Homo sapiens: one gene and its partner. The protein of the gene in region 2 interacts with the protein of the main gene of each other region in a biochemical or structural test. Each region holds a gene or a part of one and is shown on either strand. Other genes may lie near its edges. The genes, in order: HDAC10 and PAX3.

The links.
Region 1: the proteins of PAX3 (region 2) and HDAC10 form a complex in vitro, tested with the Homo sapiens proteins (one study listed by BioGRID).

The regions. Positions count from the first base shown.
Region 1 is NC_000022.11:50,248,466-50,253,068, forward strand, and holds the start of HDAC10 (polyamine deacetylase HDAC10), read right to left. Parts: upstream 2,801-4,603; 5' UTR 2,568-2,800; coding exon 2,509-2,567; intron 2,441-2,508; coding exon 2,306-2,440; intron 2,059-2,305; coding exon 1,962-2,058; intron 1,696-1,961; coding exon 1,598-1,695; intron 1,500-1,597; coding exon 1,395-1,499; intron 1,239-1,394; coding exon 1,170-1,238; intron 990-1,169; coding exon 863-989; intron 704-862; coding exon 638-703; intron 426-637; coding exon 366-425; intron 287-365; coding exon 197-286; intron 8-196; coding exon 1-7. UniProt on the Homo sapiens protein: Polyamine deacetylase (PDAC), which acts preferentially on N(8)-acetylspermidine, and also on acetylcadaverine and acetylputrescine.
Region 2 is NC_000002.12:222,222,353-222,226,158, forward strand, and holds part of PAX3 (paired box protein Pax-3), read right to left. Parts: intron 3,069-3,806; exon of another isoform or gene 1-3,068. UniProt on the Homo sapiens protein: Transcription factor that may regulate cell proliferation, migration and apoptosis. Involved in neural development and myogenesis. Transcriptional activator of MITF, acting synergistically with SOX10.

The DNA of each region.
Region 1 (4,603 bases), on a different chromosome or scaffold from region 2:
AGCCGCCCTGGGAGGAGGGTGGAGACATGATTGGGGCAGAGATATCACTGGGATGGGATGTCACCGGGAGAGCCCCTGCCTGGCTCTATCCCGGGCAGGACGCCCCTCCCAAATACCCCGTGGGCACCTGGCTCCCATGCTCCTGACCCCCAGGCCTCTGGCCCAGAGACCCTCCCTGTGTGCCCTCCCCAGTCACCTCCAGCACGGCACAGACCCGGCCGCCGGCCAGCACCTGCAGCAGCTGTGTGAGGTGGGCGAAGCACTCTGGCGTGGCCTGCATTTGCCCCTGGAACCAGAGCCATGTGTGATGGGGGACCTGGGCCCCAGGACCCCAGAAGCCCTCCCTGGCAAGGCAAGGCCCTCACCTCAGGGTCCCCGATGGCTGAGTCAAATCCTGCCGAGACCAGCACCAGCTCAGGGTCAAACTACAGGCCAGGCCGGAGTGGGGAGGGTCGACAGAGAGGGGCTGGAGCCCAGGTGAGGGCGAGCCAGGCCCATCCCATCCCCTCCTGAGCACCTTCCCCAGCCACACAGGAGTGGGACAGCTCATAACCCTCCTCCTGCCTTCACTGGCGCACTCCAGGCACAAGGTCCCCCTCCCACCCGGCTGCCCTGGGGGAGCCCTCCGTGCAGTCACCTCAAAGGCCAGTGGGAGCAGCAGGTGCAGGAAGGCAGCCACGTAGTCAGCGTTTCCCATCCCAACCTGGCAGGACATCCCAGGCTACATCCTGAACTGTGGGGCAGGGGAGGGGCCCGGGGGAGGGGGTGGGTGGGGACCTGGGGCTTGAGGGTGAACTGTGGGGGAGGGGAGGGGCCCAGGGGGAGGGGGCTGGGTGGGGACCTGGGGCTTGAGGGTGGGCACCTGGTTCCAGGGCAGGTTGACAGTGAAGCCGAGGCCCTGTCCCCGCCCCACTGCGTCTGCATCTGACTCTCGCAGGAAAGGCCAGAAGCGCCCATGCTCATAGCGGTGCCAGGAGAAGTAAAGGACGCTGCCAACAGCCAGCCAGGGCCAGAGGTCAAAGGTCAGGACCCTCAACAGCTCTACAGCTCCCTGTAGAACGCTGACCCCTGAGCACATGTCTGTATCTCACCCCTGGATTTTCCCAGGCCAGGCTGTGCACCCAAAAACTGGGGCTGCAGGGAAGGGTGGTTTCCGCACCCCTGCTCACCTGGGGTCATCCTCAAAGAGATACTGGATCCCCTGGCCATGGTGCACATCCCAGTCCACGACGAGGATCCTGGGTACAGACAGCGCTGGTGGCAAAGGGGCAGGGCCTCCCACCTCCAGGAGCCCGGCCAGGGATGGGAAGGTGCTGGCTGGGTTCTCTCGCCTCCTGCGCTGCCCCTTGCTGTGTGGCCTGGGCCCACCCCCCTGCAGCCAGCCTGGCACACACCTGTGTAGCCCGTGTTTCTGCTTGGCATGTGCAGCTGCTATGGCCACGTTGTTGAACACACAGAACCCGTTGGCAGCCGCCCTCTGGCCATGGTGCCCGGGAGGCCTACGGCGTGAGAGTAGGATTTGGGTCACGTCAGGGTCGCCCTGGCCCCTCACAGGGCCACCCACGGAGGAGCAGCCAGGGGAAGGGGCAGCTCTCACCTCACCAGGGCAAGCCCATTTTGCACAGCTCCAGTGAGCACAGCGTCCACCAGCTGCAGTCCAGCCCCTGCGGCCAGCCGCGCGCAGTGAAAGGTACTCTGTGGGCGCAGGGGCGCAGATGAGCCCCCTGCCTTCCCTGCTGCCCTTTGCAGGCCATACCCACACTTGTGCCAGGCTGCAAGACACCAGCTGCTGAGCAGAACAGGCCAGCCCCAGGCTCTGGCAGTGCCAGCAGGCAGGTGTGCAGGGCAATGTCATGTGTATGGACCAGGGGACACTGGCTGGGGTTGGCGGCCGTGGCTGTGAACGCTCAAAGGCACGTGCATGTGTGTCTGCACAGGTGAGTGTGTCCGGGGACACGCACCGGGTGGAAGTAGATGGCGTCGAACTGTCCGGACAGCGCCTGCAGCTCCTCCTTGCCTAGGACCTGGGTCTCCCTGACCAGGGATACATACTCTGGGCTGCATGCAGATGGGCAGGCAGGAGAGGCAGGGTCACCAGCAGGAGCAGGGGGGCGGGAGGCGGGGACCTGGGATTCATGGTGGGAGTGGCCACCCTGTCACTTCCTCAAGCCTGTGAGCCCACCCGAGGTGCATAGGGAGAGGCTCTGTATTCGAGGCTGGCAGGCTCGGGGTAGGCCCAGGTTCTTAGGTTTCTAGCTGGGCTGCCCGCCCCGCCCCCCATCGTGGGGCCTGCCCCCGTCCTGACCTGTGCACCAGGCCCAGCTCCTCTTCCGAGGCCTCGCGGGCTGACAACCGCAGACACCTCTGTTCCAGGCCGCGCTGCCGCAGGCGATCCAGGGCTGCGGTCAGGCGCTCAGGACGCTCGATCTCGCACTCGGGGCTGGGGCAGATGAGGAGCTCAGTTCAGAGGTCCCTCCCCGCACCCCACCTCGGCCAGGTCCCACTTACTCGTCCCAGAGCAGCCGGGTGGCCGTCATGTCCTCATGGTACACAAGCGCGGTCCCCATGGCTGCGCCGTGGTCACCCTGGGTTCCCAAACGCCCTCGCTAGTGGTGCCTGCCACTGCCTGTCCCCACCTTCGGCCGGGAGCAGCCGGAGGCCTGGGACCTGCCTGGGGCGCAGGCGGGCGGCGGGCACCGGCCTGGGCGGGAGCGCACAGAACCTAGGCAGGCTCCGGGATCCCAGGCGCGCAGAAGGCACGGAGCGAGGCTGCAGTCGAAGGGGGAGGCTCCCCGCGCCTGGCTTCCGGCTTCCTCGCCTCGGACCTGGGTCCCGCCCCGCGCCCTGCTCCCGGTCGCTATCGCGAGCTCCGCCCCGGAGCGAGGAACCAGCGGGCGCGGAAGCCTCGGCGCCCCGAGCCGCCAGCCCTCGGAGCTGCGCTGCGGCTCCGCCTCCCCATTGGCCCCGCCCCGATCCCCTCCAAGAGGGGCGGGGTCCCCCGGCCTTAGGCGAGTGGTCGCCGCAGCCCCACCCGAACGCCCGTGGCCGAGCCTGCCCATGAGAGCCCCGTTCTGCACCAGCTGGGTCAGGGTCCAGCGCAGCCCCAAGGCCCACCCGGCCCGGGCGCAGGAAGACCTGGGGTGAAAGGCGAGGGGGGCGAGGGGTCTGCAGGGCAAAGGCCACGAGGCGGGAGGAGCCCGCGGGGAGGCAGGTGGCGCTGCGGCCGGCTCAGGGCGGTGGTCGTGGCTGCATGGAGGCGCAGCACCGCCCCCGAGGTTTAAGGAGGGAGTGAGTCCGGTTCTAGCTCCAAGAAGACCCCTGGCCCAAGAGCAGAGTCAAGGTCGGTGGAGGTGGGGACACTGGACCGGGGTTGCGGTAGCATGGTGGGGGACTGAGGAAGATAGGAGGCACGGGCACAGCCACGGAGGAAGATGCCCGAGAGGAAACCTGAGGCCCCCTGGAGCCCAGGGGACACCCTGCCCCCGCGGGAGTTCACATCCAGCTGGGTCACAGAATTTTGGGGCCCCCAGTCCTCAGGCCACCTATGGGCCCACACTTTGGGCCCAGTGTGGACAGCAGCCATGCCACAAGTCAGCGTGGCTCCGGAACTGATGGCGATCACGTCCCCCAGGCCCGGATGCCCTGGAGAGGCATGAGGGTCGCTGGGCAGAGAAGGCCCATCTGTCGTGGCAGCTCATCAGGTCCACTTTGGCTGGGCCAGCTGTGGGCATGTCCACCGAGGACACCTGGCCTGCCCTGCCCTGCCCCTCACTGGTCTCTCTGCTGTAACCCCTGCCCTGGGACAGGTTTGGAGGTGCCCATGGCCTGTGTTCCAGCCGCCACCCTTGGAAACACCGAGTGGCCTGCAGAGGGCGGCCTGGGCACGAAGATACCACTGGAGCAGGGTAGTAGGGGCTAGAGGTTTGATCAAGAATAAAACCCAGCCCTCTGCGCTCACCAATCCACCACAGGGGCCAGAGGGGTCTCAACATGTCCAATGTGCCCCGTCCCCCCAGGGACTGGCTGGCGCTCACCACTTCACCACAGGGGTCTCAACGTGCCCAGCGTGCCCCCTCCCCCCAGGGACCTGCTGGCATTGGAGGATGCAGAGAGCTAGGGTAGATCCTAACACTCCTCCCCATCAGGCCCTGCCCCTGGGTCTGGCTTCAGGATCCACACACAGTGGCTTAGAGTCTAAGCCATTAGCAGGTCACCCCGTAAAAGGGGAGGGGCCAAGCCCTAACGTGGGGGTTCGAAGATCACTGGCACAGGCCTGGGGGAAGTGGGCACCAGCTTTGTGGCCTGGGAGAGATGGGATGCTCAGGCCCCCCTCCTGGCTCTAAGGGTCTGAGCTATCAGGCCAGCCTCCTCTACATGCAGGCCAAGGGCCCGGAGGTCTTAAGGTGGGACCCGGCATGAGGACGCACAGCCAGAACAGGGAGCTACAAAAGGGTCTATTTCCTTCCAGCCACGCGGGCACCACACAGCTGATTTACATTCCAGGCTGGGGGTGCAGGAAGGTCCACTGACGTCGCCCAGGAGAGGGGATGTCCCTGAGTTGGTGCCCTGCGCCCACCCTCTGTCCTTCCTCTGCATGGCCCAG
Region 2 (3,806 bases):
AGGATTTCTACCAACTAAAGATATTCTAATTCCTACATCAAAAGTTCATTGAAACTTTTTTTTTTTTTTTTGAGACAGTCTTGCTCTGTCGCCCAGTCTGGAGTGCAATGGCGGGATCTCAGTTCAACCCAACCTCCGCCTCCCAGGTTCAAGGGATTCTCTTGCCTCAGCCTCCCCAGTAGCTATGATTACAGGCACCCGCCACCATGCCCAGCTAATTTTTGTATTCTTAGTAGAGACGGGGTTTCACCATGTGGGTCTTGAACTCCTAAGCTCAGGTGATCCACCCGCCTCGACCTCCCAAAGTGCTGGGATTACAGGCGTGAGCCACCCATTGAAACTTAATATGGAGGAAAGCACTGTGTTTGGGGTTGGAAGGATATAAAGGGAATCAAGTAGGATCTCTGCACTCTGGTAGTTTGATGCCTTGTCCTCATGGGATTCACAGAGCAGTCAAGGAGACCAAAATAATTGCTCGCTAGAGGTAGAAACTTCACATTTGGAAGCACAGAGAATCAGGAAAACTCTAAAGTGGAAGCAAAAAGTTTCAGCTCATTTTAAAATTTGATTCTAATTTCGACGAGCGATCGCTTGAGATGGAAGTGACATCCATCCTGTCCTACAGGGCAGGCAGATGCAGCTTGTTACAGGAGGCCAGCTTAAGAGAAGATGAGAATTGATTTCCTTACAGAGCAATGTTAACAATTTTGCAACTTAATTGTAATTCTTAAAGTCAGATCATTTAAGAGCGGAGGAAAAGATTTTTCTGGAGAAGAAGCTCAATTTAATAAATCCTTTGCCGAGGGATTTGCTCAAACTTTTGGTACTCACCCAAGCATTTGTCTGAAAAGAGTTTTGTCTTCTCTCGCCATTGTTGCAAGATACTGGTAAGGAAAGCTGTTTGAACTTCCTCAAAACATCAACATTTAATACTCCTTAAGTTTCCAACAGGAAAACGAGGTAAGTTAATATTTTCCCATGTTGATACATAATTGAATTAGAGTTTTACTTAACTTAATAAATTGCCACCTGGGGTAATAGAACCATGAACAGCACTTAATTTCAGGTCTGCATTAACTGTGCTTTCTCACTGCCCCGGTCTGAGTGCCTGTTACCACGGCTCCCAAAGGCATCAGGGTAAGAAAATCATTTTCAAGAAAGTTCTGGGAACAAACTGTGTTAGCTTGGGGAGGCTGAAGGTGGGAAATTAGGGTCATGTTCATGCCTGAGTGCACTGTACCATAACACACACTGTGGTTGTAGTTTATATTATAATACGTCAAGACTAAGGAGGTACTCCCGGCTCAGATCAGGTAGTCCTCTGCAACTATCTAGACCAGCGATGTACAGTGCATCTCCAGCTTTATATTGCTGGGAGGAGAACTGGACTTCCAAAAGTTTTGATGTAACTTCACTCATGAAGATTTACTATGCTCAGTTCCACTGGTGAAACCCTTTATGAAGAACTCAGAAAGGTACGCTTCGGTTTTTGTCAGATTTGTTGGCAATCTCTCTGTGCCACCTGCCTTCTGTAACCTTTAGATAAGTAAACCCAGGAGTGGTGAAGCCTGATCTCTCCATCAATCTCAAGTTACTATTGACTCAAGGTTCATTCTAACTCCACCATAACCCAATTTTTAAAAACAAAAATGTCTTTGCTGAGATAATAAAGAAGAAACATCATGAGTTTCTACAAATACCTTCAAAAGACAGAATCCAAACAGAGTAAGAGTATAAGGGTTTGGGGGTTTGTTTTCATATTTTCTAAAATGATATAAATAGGTAACAAAGACATTGAGTAAACTCACCAGGAGTTGGATTAAAAAGTCCTTATATTTATTATACAGTATCTATTATATCCACAATAAAAAATGAAGAGAAATTGTTGTGAAGCAAATCTTTACTGAAAAACAAACCTTCAGCAAGAGGTTCAAGAGATTCCCAAAGGAAGGAATTTAAATGTTGTTTAAATTTAGGCTAAATAAATCCAGAGGGCTATTCCTAAGAGAACCAGGGCTTAGTGAGGACTGGCCTGCCTGTCTCTGGTCATTTAACCTGATTTTTTATCATCTTACCATTGCCAGCCTTCTGCATTTCCTAGAACCAGCTGAATTTGCCAAAAGAAGTATTAAAGGAAAAACACACTAACTTTGCAAATTAAGAACTGGTCTTTGCCTTCTTTATGTTTTGAAACTCAAAACAGACAAATTTTCTATTTTTAGTAGACTAAAAAGAGTACCCTAGAAATGACCTTTACTTTCAATACCTGAACGAACCAAGCGTAGTGATCCTAGGAGGCTGTTATCAGCCCACATTTAACTGAAATTTTCTTGATACTCCTAAGTCTTAGATAACTCTTTCAATATTGTATCACTAATTCCTAACATACAATCAATGAATAATCTGCAGAATGGCATGTGTGAGTGTATAACACTGAATAAATTCATCTAAAATATACATATTTATAACTTAGTAGTTACACTTTCTAGAAATTTCCCCTTGTTTTGAAAAGAATAGCAGTAGCAACAGAGGCAAACTGGCCTATGACTGATGTTCTAGGAGAGAACAGAAATTTACCACCCAATGTCTTTGCCAGTAGGGTGGAAAGAACAAGATTTACAAAGTTGGCTATACACCTTTAAATGAAATTATATGATCTACAATTCAATGTAATTTTACTATCCCCACACAAGATTACCTGGCCTTCCGCATCACACTTGGCATGTTAAGGAAGTGGGGGCAGGAGGCACAAATTTGTCAGTAACCTACTATACTATTAGACACAGTTAATTGTCTATCATTGCATGTATAATATTACATCAAAAGTCTCCCTCAAAGCAAGTTGTTATTTCATTTGATAAACTGCAGCCCGGTTCATTTTTATCTGCCGCCTGTACTTCCCAACTTGTATGTCTCTCTACTGAGTCCTTCCATAAAGCCATATTTCATGTCTTTGAAAAATGATCTTTACATGCATTTCTCTAGTAGTATAATGTCCAATGATTTTTTGAAACAAAATTTAAATTGGTTGAAAGAGCCCCATAACATCATGATAACTAGGAAAAAAAGATAATAATTAGAAAAGAAATTTTCATACTTTTTATGAGTAAGCAAACCAGTTTGTTCAGACTCTCAACATTACAAGTTGGCGGGTGGCGGGGAAACTAGTACTTTCTACAGTAAAGATACAACAATACATCTTATTCACATGTGTGCAATACAGACCAGGCAAAAGTTGAATCTCAGCTCCTCATTTATATTAATACTTCTGTGACCATGAACAATTTGCTTAATATCTGGGGGTCTCTGTTTTCCCATGTGCTAAACGGGGAATATAAAAACTACTTCACAAGATTGTTGTGACTATTAAAAATGCAATGCAATCTAAGCTTCTAAAAGAATACCAAGGAGATATTAAATGTTCAGTAAATGCTAGCTATTAAATAGAAAGTCTCACACTGACACTTCTATCTGAGAAAACCAAGAATTGAAGCTCTGTTTTGCTTCCTTCACTCTGTGGTGTCCAGCCAAAGCCTTTTGTGTCTGTGAGTAAACAGGAAAGTGCCCAGAAAACACCTCAAATAATTGAAAGCCGGTTTGACTTGAATGGAGGCTTAGGTCAAATTTGCTTCCAAGTTTCATGGATTAGTGCTAATTGTCCCTTGGTGTCAGCCTAATTTTGCCCATCAATAAATTACTGGTTCACATTTTTGGTGGTGTTCTCAAAGGCAATTCAGCCTACATTATTCAAGACGGATTACTTCAAATGCAATTTGAAAAATGGGGAGAGAACATAATAGTTAATC